Homo sapiens: one gene and its partners. The protein of the gene in region 2 interacts with the protein of the main gene of each other region in a pairwise test. Each region holds a gene or a part of one and is shown on either strand. Other genes may lie near its edges. The genes, in order: PPIG, DACH1, FGF12 and RNF14.

Region 1 (7,029 bases), on a different chromosome or scaffold from region 2:
GTAGCTGGGACTACAGGCGCCCATCACCACGCCCAGCTAATTTTTGTATTTTTAGTAGAGACGGCATTTCACCGTGTTAGCCAGGATGGTCTCAATTTCCTGACATCGTGATCCGCCCGCCTCGGCCTCCCAAAGTGCTGGGATTACAGGCATGAGCCACCGTGCCCAGCCTCCCCTCTCATCTTTTTAAGATTCAAATATTATTAATTTTCTATTATTTGCTTATAAAACCCAAATATTATCTCAATCCCCTTCCTTTCCATTTATATTTGTCCTTCACAATTTTTGGAAAAGATAACACCACTTTATTTAAATAAAAAAATGAAACTATCTTTAAAAAGCAAGAAACAGCTGAGCACAGTAGTGTGGCTGTAGTCCTAGCTACTCAGCAGGTTGAAGCAGGAGGATCACTGGAGCTCAGGAGCTTGAACCTAAAGTGCACTATGATCACACCCATGAAAAGCCACTGCATTCCAGCCCGGGCAACACAGTGAGATCCCATCTCTTAAAAAAAAGAGTGAGACAGTCCAGATTAGATTCTTTTACATTTCATCTGTTTCATTTCTGAGCACACAGAGTATTATTTAGTCTGGACTCATTAACTTAACCTCTGCCATAGCATCACTTACCGCAAAAGGAGGAATTTGTTTTCCAATCTTGGGTTAGAATATTAAGAACAAATCATGTAGAATTTTAAACAACATTTCACTAAATGTCAAAAGTGAAGGATGAAAAATATTAAATTATTTCCACATTAAATATGCTTATAGACCATTTTCCAAATGGTCTTCACATCAACAAAAAAATTCCAGCAAGAAAACTTAAATTTTTGGAAAATATTATAGTCAAATTTTAGAATATCAAAGATTTTTTAAAAATGTTCATAGAAAAAATGACCTAAAATTTGGATGTTGTAAGAAATATTGCTGAATCTCCTTTAATAAAAGTTAAGATTGACCTACGGAAGTTCCTATTCTATCATTAAAATTCTAAGAATTAAGTACAGATCATTGAAACCCTTTCAAATCATGTTGTAAAAATGTCCTAAGAAGAAAAAATACCCATCTGTATAAAAAGCAATTTTTTTTACCAGAAAATTAACCTTCAGATTAGTTGAAGGCAGCTAGACATTAGTATACCCTTTAATGAATAATGTTATTGATTCCATAGAGAATAAAATAGAATAAAAGACAAAATATTTAAAACATAATATAAATGTAAACATTTTTACCTTCAAAAAATCCTCCATAGATAGATTCCCCTCCTCGTCCATTTCCTAAAAATGAAAAACATACTCTTATAACTCTCAGTAAGCTCCTCAAAGGTGATACCTAAACAAAATACTTCTTGTAAAGTAGATTTTTGAATAATTTTGAATTAACAATATTCGAAGATTGCAGCAAATCATAAAAGATATTAATGTCAATAACGACAAGGTCCCAAATTACTTTCTTTCCCCTATGCTATGATAGCAAGAATGTGACGAAGACTATTAAAATATATTTTAAAAAAGAACTTTCAGATTCTAATTATGATTATGCAGGTCTTGCAACAGGTTAACATTTTTTCAAAGTTTTTTAAAACTATAGTTTTGATATTTTTACAATAAAAAAGTAAAAATTTTTATTGTAGTAAGGATTACCACTTGTGACAAAATCAAACAGAAACACTTGACAGATTACTGAGATGAATGCAGTGTTGTTTTGTATCCAGAAGCCTATTTCTGAAATTCATGTGTCAAAGGCAAAATTATTTTCTATGAGCTTCCTTCTTTTTTTTTTTTTTTTTGAGACAGAGTCTTGCTCTGTCATTCAGGCCGGAGTGCAGTGGCACAATCTCAGCTCACCGCAACTTCCACCTTTCGGGTTCAAGCCATTCTCCTGCCTCAGCCTCTCAAGTAGCTGGGACTACAGCCACGTGCCATCATGCCCAGCAAATTTTTCTATTTTTAGTAGAGGCAGGGTTTCACCATGTTGGCCAGGCTGGTCTCGAACTACTGACCTCGTGATCCGCCCACCTCGGCCTCCCAAAGTGCTGGGATTACAGGCGTGAGCCACCGCACCCAGCCTATGAGCTTCCTTCTTTTACATATTTCTATGAGTACTTCTAATTGACCAAAGATTAAATGGAGTGAGAGTGACAAGAATATTGGACTAAAACTTCTAGGGACTTGTCTAACTTTGAGATCTGTGATATTTAACAGAAAATAATACATGATTTTTCCAAGTCTCACCTTCACTGAAGTCACCACCTTGAACCATAAAATCCTTGACAACTCTGTGAAAGAGACAACTCTTATAATGTAATGGTTTCTGAGTTGATTTCCCGGTCCCCTTTTCACCTATAGAGATAAAAAAATAGGACATTTAATAGAAAGGAAATCAAAGTAGTATGAAAGCAAAATAAATGTAAAATATGCCCCTCTTGAACCCTGCAGACTTAAAATCATATTTTCATTCCTTTCAGGAATTTTTTTTTAAAAATTCATTTAAAAAATCACCCACGTTATTTCTGGAGAATGTAGAAATCACTCTCAAATAATATACCTTTACAACTAATGTTTGGTTTTAGGTTTTTTTTTGAGACAGAGTCTAGCTCTGTCACCCAGGCTACAGTGCGGTGGCACGATCTTGGCTCACTGCAACCTGCGCCTCCTGGGTTCAAGTGATTCTCCTGCCTCAGCCTCCTGAGTGGCTGGGATTACAGGCACCTGTCACCACACCCGGCTAATTTTTTTTTTCGTAGAGACTGAATTTCACCATGTTGGCCAGGCTGGTCTCAAAATTCCTGACCTCAAGTGATCCACCCACCTCGGCCTCCCAAACTGCTGGGATTACAGGCATGGGCCACCACACTTGGCCTCTATTTTTTTAATTGAGACAGGATCTCACTCTTGTCGCCCAGGCTGGAGTGCAGTGGAGTGATCTTGGCTCACTGCCACCTCCGCCTCCTGGGCTCAAGCGAATCTCCCGCCTCATCCTCCAGAGTAGCTGGGACTACAGGCACACACCACCATACCCAGCTGATTTTTTGTTATTTATTTTTTTGAGACAGAGTTTCACTCTTGTTGCCCAGGCTGGAGAGCAATGGTGCGATCTTGGCTCACTGCAACCTCCATCTAGGGTTCAAGTGATTCTCCTGTCTGAGCCTCCCGAGTAGCTGGGATTACAGGCACCCACTACCACGCCTGGCTAATTTTTATTTTTTCAGTAGAGATGAGGTTTCACTATGTTTGCCAGGCTGGTCTCAAGCTCCTGACATCAGGTGATCTGCCTGCCTTGGCCTTCCAAAGTGCTGGGGTTACAGGCGTGAGCCACCACGCCTGGCCGATTATTTGCATTTTTAGTAGAGATGGGGTTTCACCATGTTGGACAGGATTGTCTTGAACTACTGACCTCAAGTGATCCACCCACCTCGGCCCCCCAAAGTGCTGGGATTACAGGTGTGAGCCACCATGCCCAGCCACACCGTGCCCAGCCATAATATTTCTTTCTTTTTTTTTTTTTAGATGGAGTCTCGCTCTTCTAGCTCAGGCTGGAGTGCAATGGCACGATCTCGGCTCACCGCAACCTCTGCCTCTCGGGTTCAAGTGATTCTCCTTCCTCAGCCTCCCAAATAGCTGGGACTACAGGCGTGCGCCACCACATTTGGCTAATTTTTGTATTTTTAGTAGAGATGGGGTTTCACCATCTTGGCCAGGCTCGTCTGGAACTCCTGACCTCGTGAGCCACCCCCCTCGGCCTCCCAGAGTGCTGGGATTACAGACATGAGCCACTGCGCCTGGCTGCCCAGCCATAATATTTCTAAGAATTACTTTCACGCCCTAGTCACTGCTGTGTAATCTTCATGTTAAGAGAAAAGTAATATGCATGGAGAAATCTAAAATAGAGTAAATAAAAAATTAAAGCAAGCTATGCCAGGTGTGGTAGCTCACACCTGTATCCCAGCTGAGGACGCTTATGTGTAAGGATTGATGAGCCCAGGAGTTCTAGTCCAGTTGGACAACGTTGCAAGATCCTGTCTCAAAAAAAAAAAAAAAAAAAAAAAAAAAACCAAGCAAGCAAGCAAGCCATAGTCAACTGAGACTACTATTAGGGCAGTTGAAAATGTGAACAAACCTGTACAAAGACAACGAAAGTTCTCGCATGTTTTGGGGCACACATCAGAAAATAATTCAAAGACAACTCTTCCAGCTGAAAAAGAAGGTAGTTGGTTAAACTTCTTTACTAATTTAAAATATTAAACACCCATTTATAAATGTCAACTAATATTCTTACCAGGTTGATTGTTAATGGCAATGTCAAAAAAACATCGAGGACGTTGAACCTTTATTCCCATGGCTCCAATACTTAATCTGTGAGTAAAATACAGTTTCAGACAAGCAGACTAAAATAGCAAAGATCTTTCACAAATTTCTGGAAAAAAAATTCTGTGAAACAATATTAGAAATATAGTTTGAATTTATTTTGATATTTATTTCTATGAGGTAAATCACATGGATTATTAGTGCTTTCTTTTTAGAGATTAGATTGCATTTTGTGAAGCAATTAGAAAAGACTTGAAAGTTAAGCCTTAACCATTATTATGTAATCAACTTTCTATTTATCAACCGGAATACAGATTAATAGCTCAAACAGAAAATTGTATTTACTCTGTATGATTAGTGAACTCAATAAGCAGATTACCTTCAAATGAAGAAAAGACCAAAAAAAAACAAGGACAACTGATCCCTGTGCTCCTAGAAAACAAAAATGAGAGTTCTGATTAAAATGTGAGATTTTTAAGAAGCAAAAATCATGTAAGAAGAAAAAGAATAGTATATAGTTAATATACTATTTAACTATTGTTAAATAGTATATAGTTAATATACTATTTAACTATTGTTAAATAGTATATGTGGTAGATTTACATTTTGAGTAAAAGCACATTCAATTTTACATATGAGGGTACTTGCTGATTCTGAGCAACAGCCTTTACTGATATGCTGGTATAGACACAAAAAATACCAAAGAGATACTCTGTGTAACAGCTTTATTTCCATAACAGAAAGCTATTATTTAACAGACATTATTTTGATAAGGCATTTTATTTTAAGGACTTAAAATGCTGAATCGTAATACTTGGTGGAAGATGATACTTACCCGTAGAAGAAACAAAGGCACTAAGTGTAAATAGTATCCAAAATGATGGACTCTAAAAATGACAGTTTCATATGCTATGTACGCTATGTTATATTTCAATAAAAATTTACTTTATTAAAAATAATTAATATATCTAAGACAAAACTCTTTATTCTTCTACCTCCATTCCCTTGAATACTCAGTAAACATTATCATTGTCCAAGCCAGCTGCTGAGGCTGAAAACCTGGGGGTCATCTTCGGTTCCACTTTCCCTCATACCTCATTATCCAAACCATTAGGAAGGTAATTTGGCTCTAGCTTCAAAAACTATCCCAAAAGTTCTCATTACCTTTACCATTATCATTTCTTATCTAGGCTATTCCAATAGCCTCCTAACTGGTTTCTCTTATTTTACTCTTAATTCTGTACTGCCTCTTCTGCACAAAATAGCCAGAGTGGAATGATTCTTTTAAAACACAAACCTTATCATATCCTTCCCCTGCCTAAAACTGTCTTACTATTCATCTGAAAAGTTTTAGCATGGATTTTAAGGCTCTAGACCAGCACTGCTCAATAAAAACATGAGCCACCCAGGTATAAAATTTTTCAGTAGCCACATTTTGACAAACAAAAACAGGCTAATTTTGGGCCGGGTGCGGTGGCTCACGCCTGTAATCCCAGCACTTTGGGGGGCTGAGGCGGGCGGATCAGGGTCAGGAGTTCGAGACCAGCCTGACCAACATAGTGAAACCCTATCTCTATTAAAAATGCAAAAATTAGCCGGCTGTGGTGGCGGGTGCCTGTAATCCCAGCTACTCAGGAGGCTGAGGCAGGAGAATTGCTTGAGCCCGGGAGGTAGAGGTTGCAGTGAGCCAAGACTGCACCACTGCACTCCAGCCTGGGGGACAGAGCGAGACTCAAACAATCAAACAAAAACCAGGCTAATTTTAATATATTCTATTTAACTCAGTATGTACAGATTGAATATCCTTTATAGGAAATGCTTGGGACCAGAAGTGTTTCAGATTTTTTTTTTGAATTTTGGAATATTATCATACACGAGATATCCTGGGGATGGGACACAGTTTAAACACAAAATTCATTTATATTTCAAACATACCTTATGCATACAGCCTGAATTGTATGTGTAATTTTATACAACTTAAAAAATAATTTTGTGCATGAAACAAAGTTTGTATTAAGTACTTATGTGTGAAATTTTCAATTGTGATGCTCAGAAAGTTTACATTTTGGACCTCAGATTTTCAGATTAGTGATGTTCAACTTGTACAACCAAACTATTACCACTTCAAAATATACTAAACAAAAATGTTACTGAGTTTTTTTTTTTTGTACAAGTCTTTGGAAATCCAGTGTATATTTTATCCTTGAAGCATATCTCAATGTAGACTAGCCACATTTCAAGTGCTCAAAAAGCACATGTGGCTTGTGGCTACTGTAATTTCAATTATACGGCTCTAAATATTTTAGCTCCTGTTCACCTCTAGGCATTTTCCTCAACTTTCATTTCCTAACATCTTCTAATATTTTCCTCAACTTTATTTCAGCTACATTGGTATCCTGCTTGTTCCCCCTGCCACCCAACAGCCTACTCTTTCATCAGGTCCTTTACATTTGCTGTTCTCTCCACCTGGAATGCTCTCAAACCATCTTCACATGGTTCATCCCTTTGTTGCTCAAGTATCACCTTCTTATAGAGGCCCATTCCTAGTCTACTGTATTCAAGAAAGGAGCTCTCATCCTCCTAACACTTTACATCCTCTTATTCTGCTTTATTTTTCTTCCAAGCATTTATTGCTAATTGATATTCAATTTTTATATCCATCTTCTCTCACTAGAATATAAGTTCCATGATGTGATAAACCTGAATTTTCAGTCTTATTCTTA
Region 2 (7,029 bases):
TATCATAAAAAAGGTTTAGAAAAATTAAGCTGTTTTTAATCACTGTCCTAATAACCATATAGCCTTGCATAATTATATCTAAAATATTTAAGTATAAACTACTTCTTTAACTCTAAAATTAATTCTTTTTTTCTGTTGTATTTCAGTAAAATAGGACCTGTTTATTGATGTATTGTTTCATGTTTTTATGTGCTACAAAAAGGTAAAATTAAAGCCAATTGTATTTTCCTAAGTTATTTGTCCTGTGGCCCTACATCCTACAGGTGTATATGTTATGTTTGCGTGTGTGTGTGTGAATGTATTCCTACACAACACATATACATGTATGTAAAGGCTTTTCTACCAAATGTACGACAATTATTTAAAGCATAGAGTACAAATGAGCTAATGCTAATACATATAAAAAATATCCACCACAGAGTTCTCTAAACTACTGATAAAAATTTTACACTTGTTGCACACACAAGAACATTCATCCTCATATAAAATGTGTGACAGGTATTATGAAAAATAAAAGTGTTCCAGGTTATTCTTTTAAAATCAAAAGGCACTATTTAAGTGTAAGTGCCTAACTCAAGAAGATAATATCATTTTGAATAATCAAATTAAATAAAAATCCTAAATTTGAAACATAAAATAGAAAGTAATACTGTTGAATGCATCAGTATATTTTAGCAGAACTATGATGGGTTCAAAGATTTGTTACACCTTAAGTGATTTACTTTGTTCATACATAAACAATATGTCTTTAAAATATAAGACTATGAATAAAACAGCCCATTTACTGTTGCTACTAATAAAATATCAGGATACAGTTTAAGATTTTAACAAAATACTCCATCTGCCTGATAAGTGAATGTAATACACTATTTCTTAGTTAACATATTCTAGAGATTTATTTTCATTGCCTTTACTGAAGAAATGACCAGTATCCCTTAAATGGAATTGATAAATATTTACTGCAAATGCTTCTGTATGTTTCCATAAAATATCTCCCTTTCAAGTAGTACACTTTCTTTCTTAAGATATATTTTGTTTGCCCTTGAAGAAAAATAAGGTTATTTTTTTCCTGTTGTAACTGGAAAGGCAATCTAATTATTTACAAACACTTGATACCATACAAATTCAAAGATCATTTAACACTGTGACTTTTTAATACTTCATGTTTACCACTCCATTCATATACGCTAAGGAAACAAAAACATTTCTCAATTATTCAATGTTACCAATCAACATCAACCAATGTACTATGTGGCCTATTGCAGTATTTGCTTCATGAAAATCATGCTTTAAAAGTATATCCATATTTTTTTTGTCAAAAATATAGGCTATCTTCAAAATCCACTTCAGGATTCTTAAAGATCTACTTATAGTCAAATCAAAGTATATTTATTTCTATTTTTCAAATCATAGAAAATATAATCACCACGTTGTACAACATTTTCTTCCTATCTAACTGAAATTTTGTAACCTTAGACCAACAGCTCTCCAGTCCCTGGTAACCACCATTCTACTCTCTGCATCTATGAGTTCAACTTTTTTAGATTCCACATGTAAGTGATATCATGCAGTATTTGTCTTTCTGTGCCTGGCTTATTTCACTTTTACTTCCTGCTAGAAAAATGTAATGTATTCCAGGTATTGTATTCAACCTGTACGGTACATTATTATAGATACTTCAGTTAAGCACTCTCTCTCTCTGCCTCTCTCTGCCTCTCTCTCTCTCTCTCTCTCTCTGTATCTCTCTCTCTGTGTGTCTCTCTCTCAGTATCAATCACTACTCTCTAAAACTTTTTTAAAAAGTAACTGGCTATTCAGTGTGTTGCTGTGCTTGTAGTTTACAACACTTCAATATACTTATAACAACAACAAAAAAAGACCAATTAAACAATGACATAGTGAGATTTCCAGTTTAATGAGTTGTCTTTGACAACTTCCAATCAAGTCACATACATTTAAATGTGCAGAAGAATCCCAGCTTGAAATCCTGGATCAATTCCAAGCCAATTTGGATCAGAAAGCAAAAGGACCACACCTTTAACACAATGCAGTCATTGGCAAATTTAATGTCCAATTTAGAAAGAATGAAAGATGATTTTTTTTAAATGGGTGAATTCGAATGCTTTTCTCTTATAAAGGAAATCTATGTCCGAATAAACCAATACATTTTAAATGCATTTGGTTCAAGGTCCTTGACTTTGGATCAAGTGGTGATTTGGGTCATTATATGTGATGTGACATATATTTTTTAATTGGACATTTATCTGCTATTCATTAAATTAATTTTAATTGTATCATTAATTTGAAAAACAATGACCTTTTTATTGATTGTCTAATAACTAATTTATAGTGGATTGAAAATTCTTTTCATTGTCATTTGTACATTTATATATAAAGCTAATCATTAGCTGCCTAAAACTAGCAACAATGGACACACTCTTAACAGATTCTCAGAAACCTCCTTAAAATAAATAGGTGTAACAAATAAAGTAATCCACCAGTAATCTAATAATAACTAATTAGTGGACCAAATATAAATATCTTATCCTTGGTATTCTTGTTTTCCAAAGCAATAATTTGGTAAACTAACTATACTATCCTAATGAAGTCATTCCTGTATGTGACATTTGCTAAAAAGCGAATATCAGCAAATAAAAGTTAGTTACAAGACAGCCACAGTAGCAAAAATTACTTTTTACTAGAAATATTTTTGGCAGATTGAGAAGAAGGAAACAAGAAATTTGAGCAAAATGTAGGTTTGCACAGAGCCTCTGCTGTGCCTGAGATGTACATATCTGTGCAGATCAGAGCCTTTGCTGTTACACTTATCTGAGCTCCATTAGGTGGGCTCTTAATTCATAGTTTTCTTCTTTAAAAATTTAATTATTGAACATAACAAACATAATAGAGAAGGGTCTCCTTAATGCAGTCCCAAAGCCTGAAAATATAAGTGTAGTCTTAGCTAGAATATTCAAACTACATATACTATATAAATATATTAATATACTACATATAATATGTAGTATTTAGACATACGTATGTACACACACACACACACACATGCATGCAGATATACATCTCTTAAACTGGCCAATCACAAAGCATTACCTCAGTAAGAAAATGGCACATGCTGACATATGCTAAGGTCATTCTATTTTTATAACAATTCAAACATAAAATGATAAAACTTTATCTTAATTACATTTTTAAATACCCAAGCCAATAATATCCATTTTTACATTTCCTGTTATTCTAAAGATATATAACTTAATGTGACTTTTTTTTTTTTTTTGGTGAACAAGCTGAAAAGGAAATACTTGAAAGATAAATTCAAACAAAGTTTAACTTTTTAAAAGAACCAAGTAACAAAAACCTTAAAATAAAAATGTTTAATGAAATCTAGATGACTCACCTGTACCTATTTAGAAGGCATAGTTCAAATTAATTTCTTCAGACAAGGATTCAAAGGGAGACAGTTTACAACCTGTGAGAGTTTAATTTCCCATTATATTTTGCAGTAGTTGTTTTCTATGTTGCTCATACAATGCAATCGAAATGACTATTTTACTTGACTGACAAAAGCAATTGTATGAAGCAATTTAGTAAAATAACTTGGAAAGATAAAATAATACTAATTGATAGTTAAAGCACAAATTGTTCTTAAAATAACAACTACTTGGTTGCACATTAAGCTAATTTACTAATGCTACTTATACTCTAAAAACAAAACATCAAATGAGAAACAATAAAGCATATCATGTTTTCATATGCTGGTGAATCACACGTAGTAAATCGCCAAAGACAAGAGTGATTTATGCTCAAATCCTGCCAAGACTTTAGTCAATATAGGGTGTCACATCTCAGGGAGTTGGGGGATGCAGTGAGGCAAAAAGAGGGTGGTTAATATTTGTCCCAGTAGTTGACATGAAACTGGAGTGAGATTTAATAGAATAATCCAAAAAAAAAGCAGATTTGGACTAAAAAAATGAAGATTTTAAAACTATGTGTCAAATGTGAATACCAGAATTTTTCTAGAGGAAAAAAGCCTGTCGTGTAGTTTATTTTATATAATATTTGAAGCTTCACAAAATAAAATATCATATGTACAAATCAAATTTCTTACATCAGAGCATTAACTAAATGTGGAGTTCAGAAAGTAAAGTATCATCATAACCATGTTCACTTTTGACAAAAATAACCACGATATTGTGAGAGACTAACTCTTAGAAAAACAACAGGTTTGGAAGAGATTATCCAAATAACTCAACAACTTATATCCTGCAGTATAATTTGACTGAACAAAGTAAATTCTAGGTTAGAATATTCTTATATTTTATTCATACACTAGTTATTAAAGTGTAATTTGCTAACACTTTAAAAACATACAGAAATAAATTGTGGAACCAAGCAAACTTTCATATTTAAGCTTTAGTCTTCTAATTATGCCCTATTCTTTTTGAAATGATATAAAATGAGACATTAGGCGTTATTGGAAGCATTAATCTACTGTAATACGAAAACTTCAAAAGCAGAGTCTCTCTTCATTTGAAGCAATTCTTTAATTTCTCTGTGCCAAGTATTGTAATTATCTGTTAGAAGTGAATCTATATTTATGTTAAACTTTCTATATCAATGCATAAGTCTGTGTCATTGAAAACCAGGCAACAGGGCAAATGTTAAATAAATATAGACTGGTTCGGTTTGCCATCTTTATTAAAACTCCTAACCAAAAAAAAAAAAAAAAAAAAATAGAGTCAAGAGTTGGAAAATGTTTTGTACTTCTTACACTACAATTTCATTCATATATTACTACTGAAACATAAAACACTTTCAATATTTTGTCCATGGATGGTATTTTAAGACAAAAGAATTCTGTTTGTGAATATATGTATGTGCCTAAAAAATATATAAGACTAACTGGAATCTACTTAAGTTAAAAACCCCTCAAATCTAGGGTTACTTAGAACCTACATCACAATCTTGTTTGAAAGATCCTGAGAAAAAATTATCTTCTTACAACAATGAAAGAAATGAATATTTTAGATAACATAATAAAACAGGGTCACTTTTTTAAAACCTGAATTCGTGGAAAATTGAATCCTAACCCAAATCTACAAAAAGGGAACTGACTTATACAAACAGAGATTTGACCATGTACATAATTACTTTTCTTTTTTTGTTGTTATTTAATGGTAAGCAGTTAATTAACTGACCTCTGTTGCAACAGCCAAGTTCATGCAACTAATGTTTAGTTTTGAAATAATAATTGGAGGAAGCTGATCAAGGACAGACTTTGTCCTTTGACAACTTTTAAATATATGTCCTTACATTTCTTTCATGTTTTGAGACCTTTATTTTTTAGCTTTACATTTCTTTCATGTTTTGAGACCTTTATTTTTTAGCTTTACTGTCTAGCAGGTGATAGTCTCTTTTTCACCTCCTTGTGGTAATGACAGATGGCTTCAACATTTATTCTAGTTTTCATAGATAACATACTAATGCAATAGCCCTAAGCAAATTAAAACCACTCGAAGGTTTGCTACTAACTTACTGAGCCACTTTGAGCAAGTTTATGAACCTTACTTTTCTGTAACATCATTTCGGTTCCTCAAAATCCCTGGTATTATTATTCCATGCTATTAAGAGATAGACATAGTTTCTGTAAAAAGCTGAGAGTGCTAAGATTTGATGTTTCTCATTGTATATAAATTATGATATGTGCATGTATAAATTATATACACACATATATGGGTGTATAGATAGTAATTTTATACAGTTTCCCTTCTTGCTCAGCTTCTCTTATACTCTACATAAATTACTCCCTTAGCCTGTTAAGTAGCTAGAGGAGAAAGAAACCAAAGTGAAATAAATCAATACATCTAGGTGAATAAAAAAGGTTCTTCACAGCAAAGATATAAACTTGACTTGAATGAAAAAAGTAATCATAATTTTATAAATGCAAGATGCAAAACATTTCAAAGCTTTCAAAGGTAAGAAATAAGACAATAATGCTTATAATAATCATTAAAAATAATAATATAGGGTAAACAGTATATTTGGTGAGAGGGAGTTCCATTACAAGTTCTCAATTTCTTCAATCAGTGGCAGAGTTAGGAAAACCAAGGTAGGTATTTGCAACTAAACACCTTCTCAAGTTAATGACTACAATATTGCATGTATTTAAGTTTGAGTAAGCTTTTTTAGTTGATATATGATCAAATACAATACTAAATCAACAAACTTCCCGCCTTTAACTTAAAAATAACTTGAAATAGGGTTTTAGAGCAACACATGTAATTGCAAATTATTAAGGCCAGGTGACTGAAACATAATTACAGTAGTGATGAGATATTTGTGAAGAGATAAACAGTTCCACTGGATTTAACTTATCTTGGCTCTGCAAGTTTAAACTCCAGATCTGTTGTTAACCTCAGGGGGAAAAAACTTGAAAAATATTTAGTTAAAAGTTAAAGAATATTCTCCAACCACATGGTGAGGACTTCAAATCTAGGCAAAAATTCAGGGAATAAATCGAGTTTAACATTGATTATAACATTTATTATAATGCAGTCATTGAAGAAAGTTTTCTCCAGTAATTTTTTGTGTTTACGTGTGTGTATGTGAAATGGCCTTTAATTATCTAGTATCTAGTGTGCTGTAAGAAACACATAAAGAGGATACCGAGGAGAGTAGATGTTTGATTATTAAAGAGAAAAAAAAAGTAGCAATTCACCAATTTACTGGATAGGCAGACAATTTTATAACAATCGTATCTGAACTAGCTTCAAATTTCACCTAGCTTTCTTCATAACTCCAGAACAATTTTCCTGTCCTGATTCAAATAGTTTTAATATAGATTTTGGGCAAATATTTTACATTCTGCACGACCAAGAACTCCAATTATCTGAGTAAATGACGTTTAGTGATCTTGCTTCCGCGACCCCCACCACCCCCCATCTTTACTGCCACCTGTCCATACTTTTGAGCGCGCGCGCGCACATACACACACACACACACACACACACACAC
Region 3 (7,029 bases), on a different chromosome or scaffold from region 2:
TCTGACGGAATTTGTGCCTTGCGTATCTTAAGGGCTTGAGATTCTTAAATGAGTTAAAATGTTTAGTATTTAGAGGAGTGGTTCACAAAGTTTGCTGCACACTAGAATCACCTGACATACTTTCTGAACATACTCATCCTGAGATGGCACCGCATACCAATGAAATTAGAATATTGGGGTGGAAGAAAAAAGCATATATGTTTCCTTTAGAGGTCCCTATGTACAGCAGTGTTTGGAAACCACTGATTTAGACTCTTGATAGTCAAAATGTGGTTTGCAGACAAATTTTTTAGAACTGCAGAATCTCCATATTTACTCCAGGTCTATTGAGTCAGAATTAGAATTTTGACAAAGTACCTAGGCAATTTGTATGCACATTAATGTTTGAGAAGCATGATTTGGAGTGAGGAAACAGGCTTTTTCCTTCCTTTCCTCCTTCCTTCCTTCCTTCTTTCCTTCCTTCCTTTCTTCCTTCCTTCCTTTCTTCCTTCCTTCTTTCCCTCTTCCCTCCCTTTCCCTTCCTCCCTTTCTCCCTCCCTTTTCCCTTCCTCCCTTTCTTCCTTCCCCCTCCCTCCCTTCCTCTCCTCCCCTCCCCTCCTTCCTCTCCTCCCCTCCCCTCCTTTCCTCTTCCCTCCTTTCTCCCCTATTCTCCCCTCCCCTTTCCTCTCCTCTCCTCTCCTCTCCTCTCTCTCTCTCTCTCACACACACACACACACTCTCACCTCCCACTGACCCCCACCTATATCACATTTTTCTTTGTCTAGGTAGATTTCCAGCCTCAAGCTGGCATACTACCTATAGAAACACCTGTAGAGCTTTTCAAATGTAAAGATGCTTAGGCCATACCCCTAATAATGTGAGTTTAATTAGTTCTGGGGTGGGATCTGGGCATAAGTAGTTTTAAATGGCTCCCAAGTGATGCTAATGGATGGCCAGAGTTAACCACTGATGTAGGGCATTACTGCTGGTGGTCCACAGACCAGCAGCATTTGCATCACCTGGGAGCTTGTTAGAAATGCAGAATCTCAGTCCCTACACCACATCTACCAAATCAAATCTGGATTTCAACAAAATCTAATGGTCATTTCTATGCACTTTAACATTTAAGAAGCACTGGTGTAGATCTCAGGGAACTGATTGCACCTGAGAATGAATGACACCACTCCAGGCACCTCAGTAGAGAAGATTTGATATTATCTGTCTAATCATTATGAAGGCTCATGGATATGTGATCATGTTCTAGGTCTTCTGGTTGTTTTTGGATACAACAAAAATGAAATGAAAAAGAAACTGCGTGATCTAACTCATAGTTAGATCAGAAAACAAACTTACTTTTAAATACCCTTGCTGCTCATCCTCCAATCACTTACTTTCAACCCCCAATTACCCTAAATATTTATTCTCTACATTCATTTTAAGCTCCTGACAAAGTCTGCTGTTAACTCATGGTAATGTGATGATATTTGACTACTTAAATCAAGGCACTTCTAAACAGAGTGAATATAGTTTTATCCTTTTCTATTGTCATACCTCTCTGTTCAACCCTTTTGAGATTCCTATGACCTAAGTACTCGTTTGTCCCTCACATACTGCGTTTCTTACAGTCAACATTGTAATTTTTGTGCTTTTTATTTAAACAAATATTTATTGAGCATCTGATATGTACCCAATGTGCTTATTTCTGAGAATGTGAAAGAAAACTAAGATGCAATCTCTGAACTTGACAATTTCACTCTTCTATCTTCACTAATATATTAACCTTCTCGTGGGCAAAATCTGAGCCTTTAACATTCCAGCAACCACCTAAGTGTCTATCTCAGGTAGAATATTTAAGTTTGCATAGTAGGGATTCGAATTATATGCGTTGGATAGCCTTAATTAGTTTTTTTAGGCCAACTTCATGGATCCAGAAGATTGTAAGTTGGGAGAAGTGTGGGAAACTTAGCTACCAGGAGGGCTCCCAGAAACATCAGTGTGATTCCAGAACATGGAAGGGAGTAATTTGACCCACTCTCTCAAGAGAGACCTGCACATGTATTTCCAAGGAAGATTCAATTCTTTGTTCTAGATTTCATACCAGCCATCAGAGTTCAGTCAGGGCCATGAACCAACACACTTAAGGTATAGAACAGTCATTTCTCTGAAGCCAGGATGATTTACTCTGCAGCAGAGAAAGGAAATGTCTATGCAATCATTAGTATATCAGAACTGGAAAGCGATTTTAAGAAGAGCCATTTTGTGGTTAAACAATAACAACAACAATAATAAAAGACTGAGCCAGTATAGTGAGATAAGTAAAACATAATTCAGTAAAATCATGATGTATAGTCACTGAGTGTAGGAAATACAGTTTCTTACTCCACCTGTCATGGTGTAAATTTGGACAAATCTTTTCCTCTTTGGGTCTCAAGATTCTTAAATATCAAAGGGGGTCCAGTTCATTTAATTTAAAATACCGAGTTGCCACATTGTTCCAGGCACATTATTAAATGTGGGGGACAGAGGTATAAATAGTTTATTGACTTGCCCTCTAAAAGCTTACAATGTAGGGATATATGAACAGGATCAAGAGCTGTTGATTTCTAGCATTTTATGTGTCTTCTCCATTCATCTTTCAGAGTTCTAGTAGGTTATCCGGGAGGCTAGAATATAAAGTCTTACAGTGATTAATGAGCTCCAAAGAGGCACTTAACATTCCACAGCAATAATTCCTGCCTTTTGTTTCCCCTTTGGTTTATTTAAACAAAATTATTGTGTGGGAGAACATTTGAACTCAAGCTATGTATCTACTATAAAAGCTATTCCACCTGACTAGCTACCTGCCTAACCTGTTTCTTGCTTTAGGTTATTATGAGGCTTGTTACCCTCAGTAATAGGTCTGGGGGAGGCCAACCTACTTGCCATTCCCTTATCCTTTTTCTTTTGTGCTTTTAAGTTTTTGAAGTACCAACCTTATTAGGTTTGGTGTTTTGTGCTACTGATTGACCAATAATGGTTTATTGCATCTCTTAATATTGGGTTTCCTGATTTGTCACATATTTACACCCATAAATAACGTTCGTGAAACACTTTGTACTTTTTCAAAAGGCTTTTAATATATACAATCTCCCTTAAAACCCTGTGATTTGGCATTTTAACTTTATTTTATAGATAACAAAACAAAGGATCATAAAGACTAAATGACTTAGGCAACTCATCTTACCTCTGTTTCTCTGCAAAATAAAAATTCTTATACCCATCCCAAGTGCTGTACCATAATATCATGATTATGAAATAAAACTCATGCTAATAAAGTATTTAGAACTCTTTAGAATTATAATCTGACTTTCATCATTTTTAGCTGTATCTCTCTTTACACTAGACTGTGAGATCCTGGATGGTAGAAATTGGTCCTCTGCCATTTTTGTAGTTTTAGCAGCAAGTATACTGCACGACACTCAATAAATCACCCTTCATTAACTCCCACAAAAACTTCACTTTACCAAAAGGGATTTCTTGTGTGCTTATTCTACAGTTTTAATAGTAACGTCTCCAACACCTGAATTTGTCTCTACATCTTATGGGTTTGGGGATGGAGATATATTGAGTCAAGTATTACACCTTGGATGGGTTTAAAACATAAACTGTGTAAATTCTGGCCACTAACAATGGTCTTAATCGGGGTACATCTCAGAACCACCAGACATCCTGTAATACCTGCAAGTCAGATATTTAAGAAACACTCAGGTGATGATGTATGTCCTCAATTATGAATCCATCGATAAGCTCCAAGATGGTTACTAGGAAACTATAACACATACATGTGTTCTTTATCAGGAGCACTATAGGACTTCTACTGCCTGGGCCTTGTCTTTTATTACCACCCTCTTTAGTGTTAAGAGAGTGTGTGTAGAAGAGAGATTTCATTTCTGTACTACAGACTTGGGATTGAAAATAGATATGCAAAATAGATGGCAAGAGTTTGAGGCTAAGATGACATGCCATTTTCCCCAGCATCATCTTCCTCATCTCCTTATTAGCATCCTTGCATGCAGAGCACGGTAGGATTTTTTAAGGATCTATGTCAATAGTTCTAATTTTAGCTTTCTCATCTCTCCAGTTACTTTTTGAAATAGTCTCTGTCTCCTTGTCTTTGGGAATGTGAGACTCCCACCCAGGGAGGCCGTGGTATTTAACTGCTGCGATGCTGCTGATGGCACCTAGGCAGAAGTCCCAAAGGACACCTGTTGCCCCTTCACAGATCTTTTCTTTTTTCTTTAGCGCATACTCTGCCTGGCTTTTTACCTGAAACAAGCCCCATTACTAATGATTGAAAAAGCACACATAATTGAAAGTGGGACTTTAAACTACGTGATAGAAGTAAAGGCATGCTGCCATTCTGTGGTTAGGTTTTTGTTTCTTTCTTGTTTGTGGATTGGCCATTAGCCTGAGAAGCAACCCAAAGGGACTAGACTGCAGAAAAAGAATCCAGAAACTTTCAGAGGCTGTTCAGAAGATAACTAAATGCACCAAAGAGTCCTTTACCAAGCAGGCAGGAAGAGGCAGCAATGCCAATCTCTCCCTACCTCATTCACTTCTACAATTATCACCCACGTGAAACAGGTTTTCCTCGAATCCTCCAGTACTGATAGCACTCTAACAGATTGAACAAACCTCAACACAGGTAATTTGGGAAATTTCTTTTCAGATACTTGGGAACTGAAAAATCTAGATATGCTTCCTGCTTCAAAATGTGTTGGGTTGTTTTTCTTGTTTTTCTTTTTTTTTTTTTTTTTTGCCCTTAGTCTCTTTCACATATTATAATAAATTGGGGTTAGATACTCTACAAACAAGACTATTATATAAGATTTATTATATGATCATTCTAATTGTTTAAATCTGGAAAATTTAAAATTAGACTATTTACACATTTTATCTAAAGGCTTTTCCTTCATTTCAAAACATGTTCAACATTTCTAGCACTATTTAAAATTGAATTTGGTTTACTTCTTTCTTCTGGGATTTAAAAGAGAAATATTTGCTATGTATCAAGATAAAGGTTTTCATGTAAATCACTCTTTATTTTCAAGCCTACAAATAACTTAACATGAGATGAAATGAGTACTTTTTTACTATGGGCTTTGATTTGCATCAGCATAAAAAACAAACGATTATGCAAATATAGCAAGACCCTCAATAACAATAACGTAAACATGAAGGAGACAACTAAAGCAATAGCACAGACCAATCAGTGCCAGTCTTTTAAAATGAGACCATTGGTTGATTGATTCAATAAGCAGTATTTCCTTAGAACCTGCTGTTTGTTAGCTGTTCTAAGGCTGAGCTTTTCTAACTGTAGTATGCACACTGGTGGAATTATGACATTGTATACTCTGGTGATACACTGAGGCATAAAATACACATGGTGCATGTTCCAATGAAATATAACTAATATTCTAATGTATTAATCTAACAGACTACTTAGATTATTCTAATCTAATCTATTAAATGCTAGAAGATCTGGGATCAGGTTCTCGTTCTTCTATTCCATGGATGAACCTCAGTGTACTAAACCTCTCTCTCTTTTTTTTTTTTAACTCGGTTTGCCCATTATTGATTTTTATTTTCTTGTTACAAAGAAATTGTTATTTTAAGCTTGTTTGTATTCTTTCTTGATCCTCTTTAGGCTTAACTTCTACAGAAAATAAACAGGGTGATCATAATTACCACATCAAATTTTAAGGACTCAGTGTGGGTTTGAGCTAGCTTTTTAATGCTGTGAATTGTGCAACTGAAGTTGTTGGATTTATAACTTTATTGAGGAATTAATTTGATTCTGAGTGAGAAAGCACTAAGAGGAAAAAAGTGCTACTTGGCTAAAGTTTGTATATGGCATGATTGTGACCACATAGGTAACAGGTTCATGTCTAAATTGATGGATGGCTGCAGTGGCCTTGTGGAAAAGACGCTGTCTTGGGGATCCGGAGACCTGGATTTGAATCCTAATTCCCGCCCCATCTTCAGTTTGAGCTCGTGGCTTTCTTTCTATGGCCTTGTTCTTCATCTGCAAAACAAGAGTGGATTAGAGGCAAGATTCTTTTCACTTCTGGGATTGAAAGAACCAGCATTTGTGAAGTGTTTATATAGGAACTACAGTGGATACATTCTGTTTAAAGATTTATGATCAGCTGCTTGTTCTCTCCTATCTCTTTTGGCGAACTTGATGGCATTTTTGCTTAGCAGATTGTACATTATGTTTTTATAACGTCTTTTCTTCACCCTCATATGTGTCCTCTTTACAATTAAGATGAGTTTATTTATACAACAGTCATATGTGAAGTTGATTTGGTGGATATGGTTTTCTTCTCTCTGCCAGCCCTAACCAGCACCTTCTTGCTAAAAAAAAAAAAAAAAAAAAAAAAGAAAGACTAACAGAATAATGACAAACAGTCCAAGGGCTGAGTGTTTTACTGACATTATTGATAGGAAGTCTGATTTTCTTTAGTTCTCAATCATTAGTAATATATTACTAAAAAACAATTGCACTCAATCCTTCATTGCCTTCAAACAATTTAAAAACCAATAACTATGTCTTCCAATGTTTGATTGGCTACTGATCATTTTAGATAGAAGAAGCATTTTCTACCACCAGATGAAAGCTATCCAAGGTCTAAGGGTTTCATGGTTAATAAACTGAATTTCTTGATTATGCGAAGAATAAAAGAAAGGGAAATATCTAACAGCCATTAACATGTTTATGAACATGGGTTATAATCAGAAGTGTTTATGACATAATGGTAATTATAAAAATAGTACATGTGGATATATGCACTAATTATAATGTAAAATTTGGTCATTGGCAAATAGTAGATTGTATTATGCAAAAAGTGACAATATTTGGATAATGACGATTGAATTATAAGTGGAGTTTTATCCTTTTTCACATATTTTATTACAGTTTTTTTCCCATAAAGCAGATTTTCTTTCTATGCTTTATGGGGAAAAAAACTGTAATAGGTGTTGGGTTCAGTTATAAACTTAAACAGATCC
Region 4 (7,029 bases), on a different chromosome or scaffold from region 2:
TAAGCTAGTGATTCCCCAAGGTTTATGGGATCCTACTAGCAGATATACAAAGTAAATTATCACAATTACTTAATAACTACTTTAACACTCATCCTTGCCCACTGCAAGGCCAAAGGAAGCATTCCATTTGCTTAAGCAGTAGACTAAGACCATAGCATTTTTAATGGATACAGCAAAACAACTTGTGGGCTGGCTCCAAGGCCTCGGACTGCCCCATGAGCCCTATCAAGGAAGTTCCTGAGATGATATCTCCATTTATGGAAGAGAATTAGGAGGCAACCATCAGCAGGGTAAACAGTTACCTGACCAGGAGTGGCCACCGAAGGGCACTTTGGTTCTGGGCAGTTGAGGCATTGAACCTGGCCATCTCTGATCTGGATTTCAAAGTAGTCCTTCAGACAGGCTTTGCAGTACACATGCCTGCACTCCAAGAAGTACATGCATTCACTACCCAGCTTCTCACAGAAACAGATACTGCACAGGAACAATTTACTATTAAAGCATTTTATCTGCTGAGCTTGATCAAAGTCCAAGATTTCCTGGATCAGATTTGACAGTGATTCCACATCCTGCACTGCTCTCTCATCCACAATTTCCTCTTGGTCTACATCAGATCCAGCAGCTCCTCCAAAATCTAGCTCTGTGTTGGGAGAAGCTTGAGCTGTCCTTCTCTGCACTTTTTTCTGAGAACCAATCTTGAGCTCAAAAGGAGAGACAATATTCAAGTATGCTAGGGTCTCTTCCTTAAGAAATTGCATCCAGGCAAACAGGACCACGCTGCCACGGTGTTCTTCCCATAGGTTGTCTAAGTGCTTGCATAGAGCAGATAGCTAGGAGAAAACACATGAAGATGTTGGTGAGTTTGGAAAGATGATGCTGCTGCCAACTCCTGGTTTCCCTAGAAATCTTTTCCACTTGCAAGTTAGGCCCTTATTCTAACACTATTTTTTACTGCTGTGATACACTGTGCTACATACAAAACAGTACAAACATTCTTACTGGAGCACTTCTTAAACTATTCGGCAACATGAGCCAGAGTAGAACATAAAGTCAGAAGCAAGAAGTACCACGAGAAGAAGAGAAATAGCAAGACTCCGTAAGGTAGAGAAATAGCTGTACATTTTAGCCACTGAAATGGAAGACTTTTTTCTGTTCTTTAATCTTTTAGTACTGCCATATACCTCATGTAGGACAAAGAGATCTAGTTCTAAAAATAAACTATTTTTCTTCCATTAGGAGTCCTAGCCCTGTTCGTATCCTAGAATAATGGTTAGAAAAAGAATAGTTTAAAAATACTATCCAAGTTTTAAAATTAATTCTTTCAGTTTTATCAAAAAGTCAACTCATCTGAAACAATCACTAACAGAATTCAACCTCAGAGTCCTTGTTCAGATTTACAAGCTGCTTTTAAGTAAGCAATCTGGGCTTATATCAGATCCTGGTTAATGGAGGGAAGCTGCCTGATATTGACCCTGGTCCTAATCACAAGCCCTCAGCAAGGTTTGGCAGCCATAGAGAAAGCTTACACTTCCTAAGCTAAGCAACCAAAATTAAATTATTTGGAATTTTCCTCTTTAAAAGTGGTCTGTTCAATTTGAAAGGCAAATGTTGGAGAATTTTCCATTAGAAATATAAAATATTTTTAACTAGAGCACAGGAATTATAAGCAGCTTTTCTTTTTTAGGTAAACATCCAAAAATATGCCTTCCAGATGGCAAACAAATTTTGTAAATTTAAATGACAAATGAAAAGGGACCAGATTTTCTGTTTCTTACACTCTGTGTAGTGCCACTGACTAAACCCTGCATAGGTACTACCTTAAATACTTATTGATGAGTTAAGATTGAACAACTAATGATTTTTCACATTTGCATAAATATCCTTATAAATCAACCATGCTTTTGAGAAATCTGCTAACATCTGTAAAATGTGATAAATACTAAAAGGGAAGCTATGAGTGCTGTGTGAGCTACCAAGTCCTATGAAGAAGCCATTCTCCAACCTCTTTTCTACCCCAGTCCCTTCTCAAGAGAGGCAGCTGGGGCTGGGCGTGGTGGCTCATGCCTGTAATCCCAGAACTCTGGGAGGCCAAGGCGGGTGGATCACCTGAGGTCAGGGGTTGGTGATCAGCCTGGCCAACATGGTGAAACCCTGTCTCTACTAAAAAATACAAAAAATTAGCCAGGTGTGGTGGCGGGCGCCTGTATTCCCAGCTACTTGGGAGGCTGAGGCAGGACAACCACTTGAACCCACTAGGCAGAGGTTGTAGTGAGCTGAGATTGTGCCCCTGTGCTCCAGCCTGGGTGACAGAGCAAGACTCCATCTCAAAAAAAAAAAAAAAAAAAAAAAAAAAAAAGAGAGAGAAAGGCAGCTGGAATGCATGTAAATGGAAGGGGGACGGGAAAGAGACTGTGTAAGTATATTGGGGGAGGAATAAGGAATAAGGTTTTAGAAAACTAAAACCACTTCCCTCTGTCTACCCGCCCCAATTCAGGGAATGACAGCTCTATGTGTCAATTTCACCATTAACAGGTGAGAGTCATAATGCCAAGGAATCAGGGTACAGCAACAAACAAGAACTGAACCAAGAAGGAATATAAGAGACCAATTAAAATGTTAATTATATGCATAAACATTTATTTGATTAAGAATTCTACTGTAATTTTAGCTGTAACACATAAAACAACTCTCTTCCCCAGCACACACCTCCGCCCCCAAATCCAGCATTAAGTAGATGCTGGTTGGCTGGAATCTGAAACCACAACCACGCATCCAGTTAATCTGTCCCTGTTTTGTGCGTGTGTGTGCATGCACGTGCATGCACGCACATGCGTGGATGTAAAGTATGAAAAGCTCTCTGGTGAAATAGGACTATGAAGATCTAAATAATTAAGCCAACTATCAGTGGCCTAAATGCCAAACAGTCTTGATATTCCTGGACAAATCAACTGTCTTGCATCTGTTGCCTCTGGCACAGACATTAGAATGTAAAGTAATACTCCTTTTTATTCTACCTGTGTTATCCTTTTTAAGGTTTAATTTTGCTTTTAAACCATAAGCTCTAGTTTGTGAAAGTACTCTCACTTAAAAGATTAGATTGGTGGATGGGGAAATGAAAACTGTATGATCCAAAGAGAAAAACTAATGAGCTATTCCTTGAGGTCAGCAACTCTGACATCTTTTGTCTTTTTCTTTTTTTTTTTTTTTTGAGACAGGGTCTCTGTCTGTCACCCAGGCTGGAGTGCAGTGGCTCAGTCTTGGCTCACTGCAATCTCTGCCACCCAGGCTCAAGTGATCCTCCCACCTCAGCCTCCCAAGTATCTGGGATTACAGGGACGCACCACCACACTTGGCTAATTTTTGTATTTTTTGTAGAAATTGGGTTTCGCCATGTTGCACAGGCTGAGCTTTTGTCTTAATACACATTAGTCTATTGATCTTCATTATGACTTCTAGAAAAGCAGCTGCTGATTCATTATCTCTCCCAGAATGCTTTATATTATTTATATTTAGCTTCAAGCCATATTTATGTCTCAATCAAGAGTTGAGGTTGTTACTAGAAAAGTATATATAACCCAGAGGAAATGAGGTGCTTAACATAAGGCCTCAAGCCTTACTGAGATATCTACAGGAACTATACACATTTCTACTTGTATGCATTTATGTCTACGTGATACCAGTTGACTGTTATTTGTTATTAATACAGATTTTTACAAAGAAAATCAGTTATTGTATTCACTCAGAAAATTTGCTTATTATAACTACATTAGCTCAATTTTTAGTCCTAATTACAATGGAATCTTTCATTTAAGGAATGGATAAGAAACTAAGAGAAAAGTAGTATCAATGTCTAAGGAAAATGAGGAAGACCTCTTAGTCTCCATTATAATACAGATTAAACAGGAAAATAGCAAGACAAGAAAAGAAATAATATACTTGATTAAAAATTACTCCTACTACAATTCATGATTGTTTTAATTACTGCCATTCCTTTTTAAAACACCAAACATTTTCAATTTCTTAACATCAGGATTCACCAAGGCAAGGGAAAAAAATTACAAAACCAAAGCCATTTGTTTTTCATGCACTGAATTCAAGATCTTTAAGATAGTCTTCAATTAAAGGTGATTTTTAAGTTTCTAAAAATGGATAGGAAAAATTAAGTTTCAAGTCTAACCTGAGTTGGTGACAGCCATTTGCCACTAAGTGTGAATGAAGGTGGGGAAGAGGATGGATAATCTGGTGGCAGTTCAAAGTTCAGCACAAGTGGAGGCAGAAAGCAAATGGTGTATTCAAAGCCACTATTCTGGAGACACTCATTTGAATTGCCTGAACCAAAAACAAAGATTAGAAAGGATCAGTTGGTCAACACTTGAGTGTCCACTACTGTTGAGCAGCGCTCAAGAAAGACTTAATGCTTTAGTTGAGGGAATAAAAACCCTCCCCCAAAGCACTTTCTATTTCTTAATTTTAACTTCGTAGCCACCACCTTAAAAAAAAATCTTGTAAGCCCTTGAAAAATCTACAGCACCATGAAATGTATAATGAAAATACTACAACTTATTCTTGTATACACTTCTGAGTACAATTCCTAACACTAATGACCAAGGAACACACAATGTTTGTTTTGTTGTGGTTTGGTTTACAGTGGATGATTGAAGACACAATCTAGAGAAAGGATGTTCATTTCCATTGAACAGCATGACCTACTTAGACCAGCATGTCCCACTTAGACCAGCATGTCCCAACTACCCATGAATCAGTTGGGAAAATTTGTGCCAACACAATGATCTCAGGTTTGAGGATATAATATAGCACACAACACTCTCACAATCAAAGTTTCATTTAAATTACCACACTTACTTTCCTTACTCAATCCCTTTATAGTAGAAACATTTTGAGAAAGTGTGCATCAAAGTCTTCTGTAAATGTCTGTATCAAAAGCAGCAGTTTTGTTTTTTCTGAAGCAAAAGGTCACAGAGTAATAGCATGTGTCATATGTTTATAGTAGTTGAAATGATTCTGGAAACCAAATAGTATTAACCACCACCACTGTACTTGAAAATTTCTAAGCGTTTTCACATACATTCATTTTCTCTTTGATTACTGCTATGTAACAGCCAATGACTCATGGCTGATAAACTGCTAGTTAGCAGACCAGGATGTATGAAATATGCAGGATAATATCCCTCTTCAGTGATCAAAAAGGTAGAATCAAATTGAAAACTGCTTGCCCCTCATTGCAATTTTCATTTAAAACAGAAACATGCATTACCTCTGTAATACTACCACCTATCACTAATGCCTAAAACACAAAATGACAAATAGTTTAAGGTACACTAAGAAATAAAGAATAATAGAAAAATCTGTTTAAGAAATTATTAACTAACCGCTCACAAATATCTTGAAATTCTGTGGCAAATCCAAATAGATCCTGGTTTCTCCACCTTGGACAGACTCTGCTTTTCTAAATTCATCTCCATCGTAAATACTTGCCAGGGCCAGCAATTCATCCTCCTGAGCTTCTCGATCTTCTGACGACATAAGGACCTGAAAACATTAAAATCAGTTAAGAACAGAAAATGCACAGAGGCTGGCCGGGTGTGGTGGCTCACACCTGTAATCCCAACACTTTGGGAGGCCGAGGCGGGCGGATCACCTGAGGTCAGGAGTTCAAGACTAGCCTGGCCAACATGGTGAAACCCCATCTCTGCTAAAAATACAAAAATTAGCCAGGCGTGGTGGCAGGTGCCTGTAATCCCAGCTACTTGGGAGGCTGAGACAGGAGAATCGCTTGAACCGGGAGGTGGAGACTGCAGTGAGCCAACATCACGCCACTGCACTCCAGCCTGGGCGACAAGAGTGAAACTCCGTTTCAAAAAAAAAAAAAAGAAAAGAAAATGCACAGAGGTGGAAAAAGCTTAATGGCACAAAAAACAACTGCAAAGAATTAATCGATATTATCACTTTTCTCCTAAACCAAAAATGACAGCCATATCTGGCATTCCATTAGTTTTGCAATATTAACAGTCTTTTTCAAAAGGGATGGTTGTGGTACTTCTAATTCCTGATCTTATCAGTTAGATATTTTATGACTGAATTAGAGGAAAAAAAGCACAATTTGAAAATTTTCTTTGAAAAGGACAAATCACAAATTTACTTTGACTTGTCCACTGAACCTAGCAATGTGCCTGGTTCGCAAAAGTGGTCAAAGTATATTACACTCCTTTCTTAAGTTAATTTGCCAGGCGCGGTGGCTCGTGCCTGTAATCCCAACACTTTGGTAGGCCGAGGCGGGCAAATCACCTGCAGTCAGGAGTTCGAGACCAGCCTGGCCAACGTGGTGAAACCCCATCTCTACTAAAAATACAAAAATTAGCTGGGTGTGGTGGCTCACCCCTGTAATCCCAGCTACTCGGGAGGTTGAGGCAGGAGAACTGCTTGAACGTGGGAGGCAGAGGTTGCAGTGAGCTGAGATTGCACCATTGCACTCCAGCCTGGGCGACAGAGTCAGACTCTGTCTCAAAAAAACAAAAAAGTAAATTTTTTAAATCCACAGGAATCTTTAGGGCAAGTTTTCTTAGCTTCAGCTCTATTGACATTTTGAAGTAAATAATTGTTGTTGGAGAGCTGTGTTGTGCATTATAGAATCTTAACAGCATCCCCTGGCTTTTACCCACTAGATACCCAATAGTGGCCCGCTTCCACCCACAAGAGCTGTGACAACTGAAAATATCTAGCCAGGTGTGGTGGTGCTTGCCTGTGGTCCCAGCTACTTGGGGAGCTGACATGGGAGGATCACTTGAGCCTGGGAGGTCGAGGCTGCAGTGAGCCATGATAGCACCACTGCACTCCAGCCTGAGTGACAAAGTGGGACCCTGTCTCAAAAAAAAAAATATCTCCAAATAGCGCCAGGTCCTGGGGCAGGATGGGGGTTGGAGGCAAAATTGCTCCCAGGTGAGAAAACAGTGCTTGAGAATGTTACAGGCATAGATATTATGGAAGAAAATTAGATAACTGAGCAAGCAG

The links.
Region 1: the proteins of DACH1 (region 2) and PPIG interact in binary tests that used the Homo sapiens proteins (3 or more experiments, as listed by UniProt).
Region 3: the proteins of DACH1 (region 2) and FGF12 interact in binary tests that used the Homo sapiens proteins (3 or more experiments, as listed by UniProt).
Region 4: the proteins of DACH1 (region 2) and RNF14 interact in binary tests that used the Homo sapiens proteins (3 or more experiments, as listed by UniProt).

What each region holds. Positions count from the first base shown.
Region 1 is NC_000002.12:169,601,351-169,608,379, reverse strand, and holds part of PPIG (peptidyl-prolyl cis-trans isomerase G), read right to left. Parts: intron 4,739-7,029; 5' UTR 4,686-4,738; intron 4,355-4,685; 5' UTR 4,339-4,354; coding exon 4,278-4,338; intron 4,194-4,277; coding exon 4,119-4,193; intron 2,342-4,118; coding exon 2,234-2,341; intron 1,277-2,233; coding exon 1,232-1,276; intron 1-1,231. UniProt on the Homo sapiens protein: PPIase that catalyzes the cis-trans isomerization of proline imidic peptide bonds in oligopeptides and may therefore assist protein folding. May be implicated in the folding, transport, and assembly of proteins.
Region 2 is NC_000013.11:71,857,180-71,864,208, forward strand, and holds part of DACH1 (dachshund homolog 1), read right to left. Parts: intron 1-7,029. UniProt on the Homo sapiens protein: Transcription factor that is involved in regulation of organogenesis. Seems to be a regulator of SIX1, SIX6 and probably SIX5.
Region 3 is NC_000003.12:192,717,534-192,724,562, reverse strand, and holds part of FGF12 (fibroblast growth factor 12), read left to right. Parts: intron 1-7,029. UniProt on the Homo sapiens protein: Involved in nervous system development and function. Involved in the positive regulation of voltage-gated sodium channel activity. Promotes neuronal excitability by elevating the voltage dependence of neuronal sodium channel SCN8A fast inactivation.
Region 4 is NC_000005.10:141,972,104-141,979,132, reverse strand, and holds part of RNF14 (E3 ubiquitin-protein ligase RNF14), read right to left. Parts: intron 5,551-7,029; 5' UTR 5,545-5,550; coding exon 5,391-5,544; intron 4,330-5,390; coding exon 4,178-4,329; intron 831-4,177; coding exon 303-830; intron 1-302. UniProt on the Homo sapiens protein: E3 ubiquitin-protein ligase that plays a key role in the RNF14-RNF25 translation quality control pathway, a pathway that takes place when a ribosome has stalled during translation, and which promotes ubiquitination and degradation of translation factors on stalled ribosomes.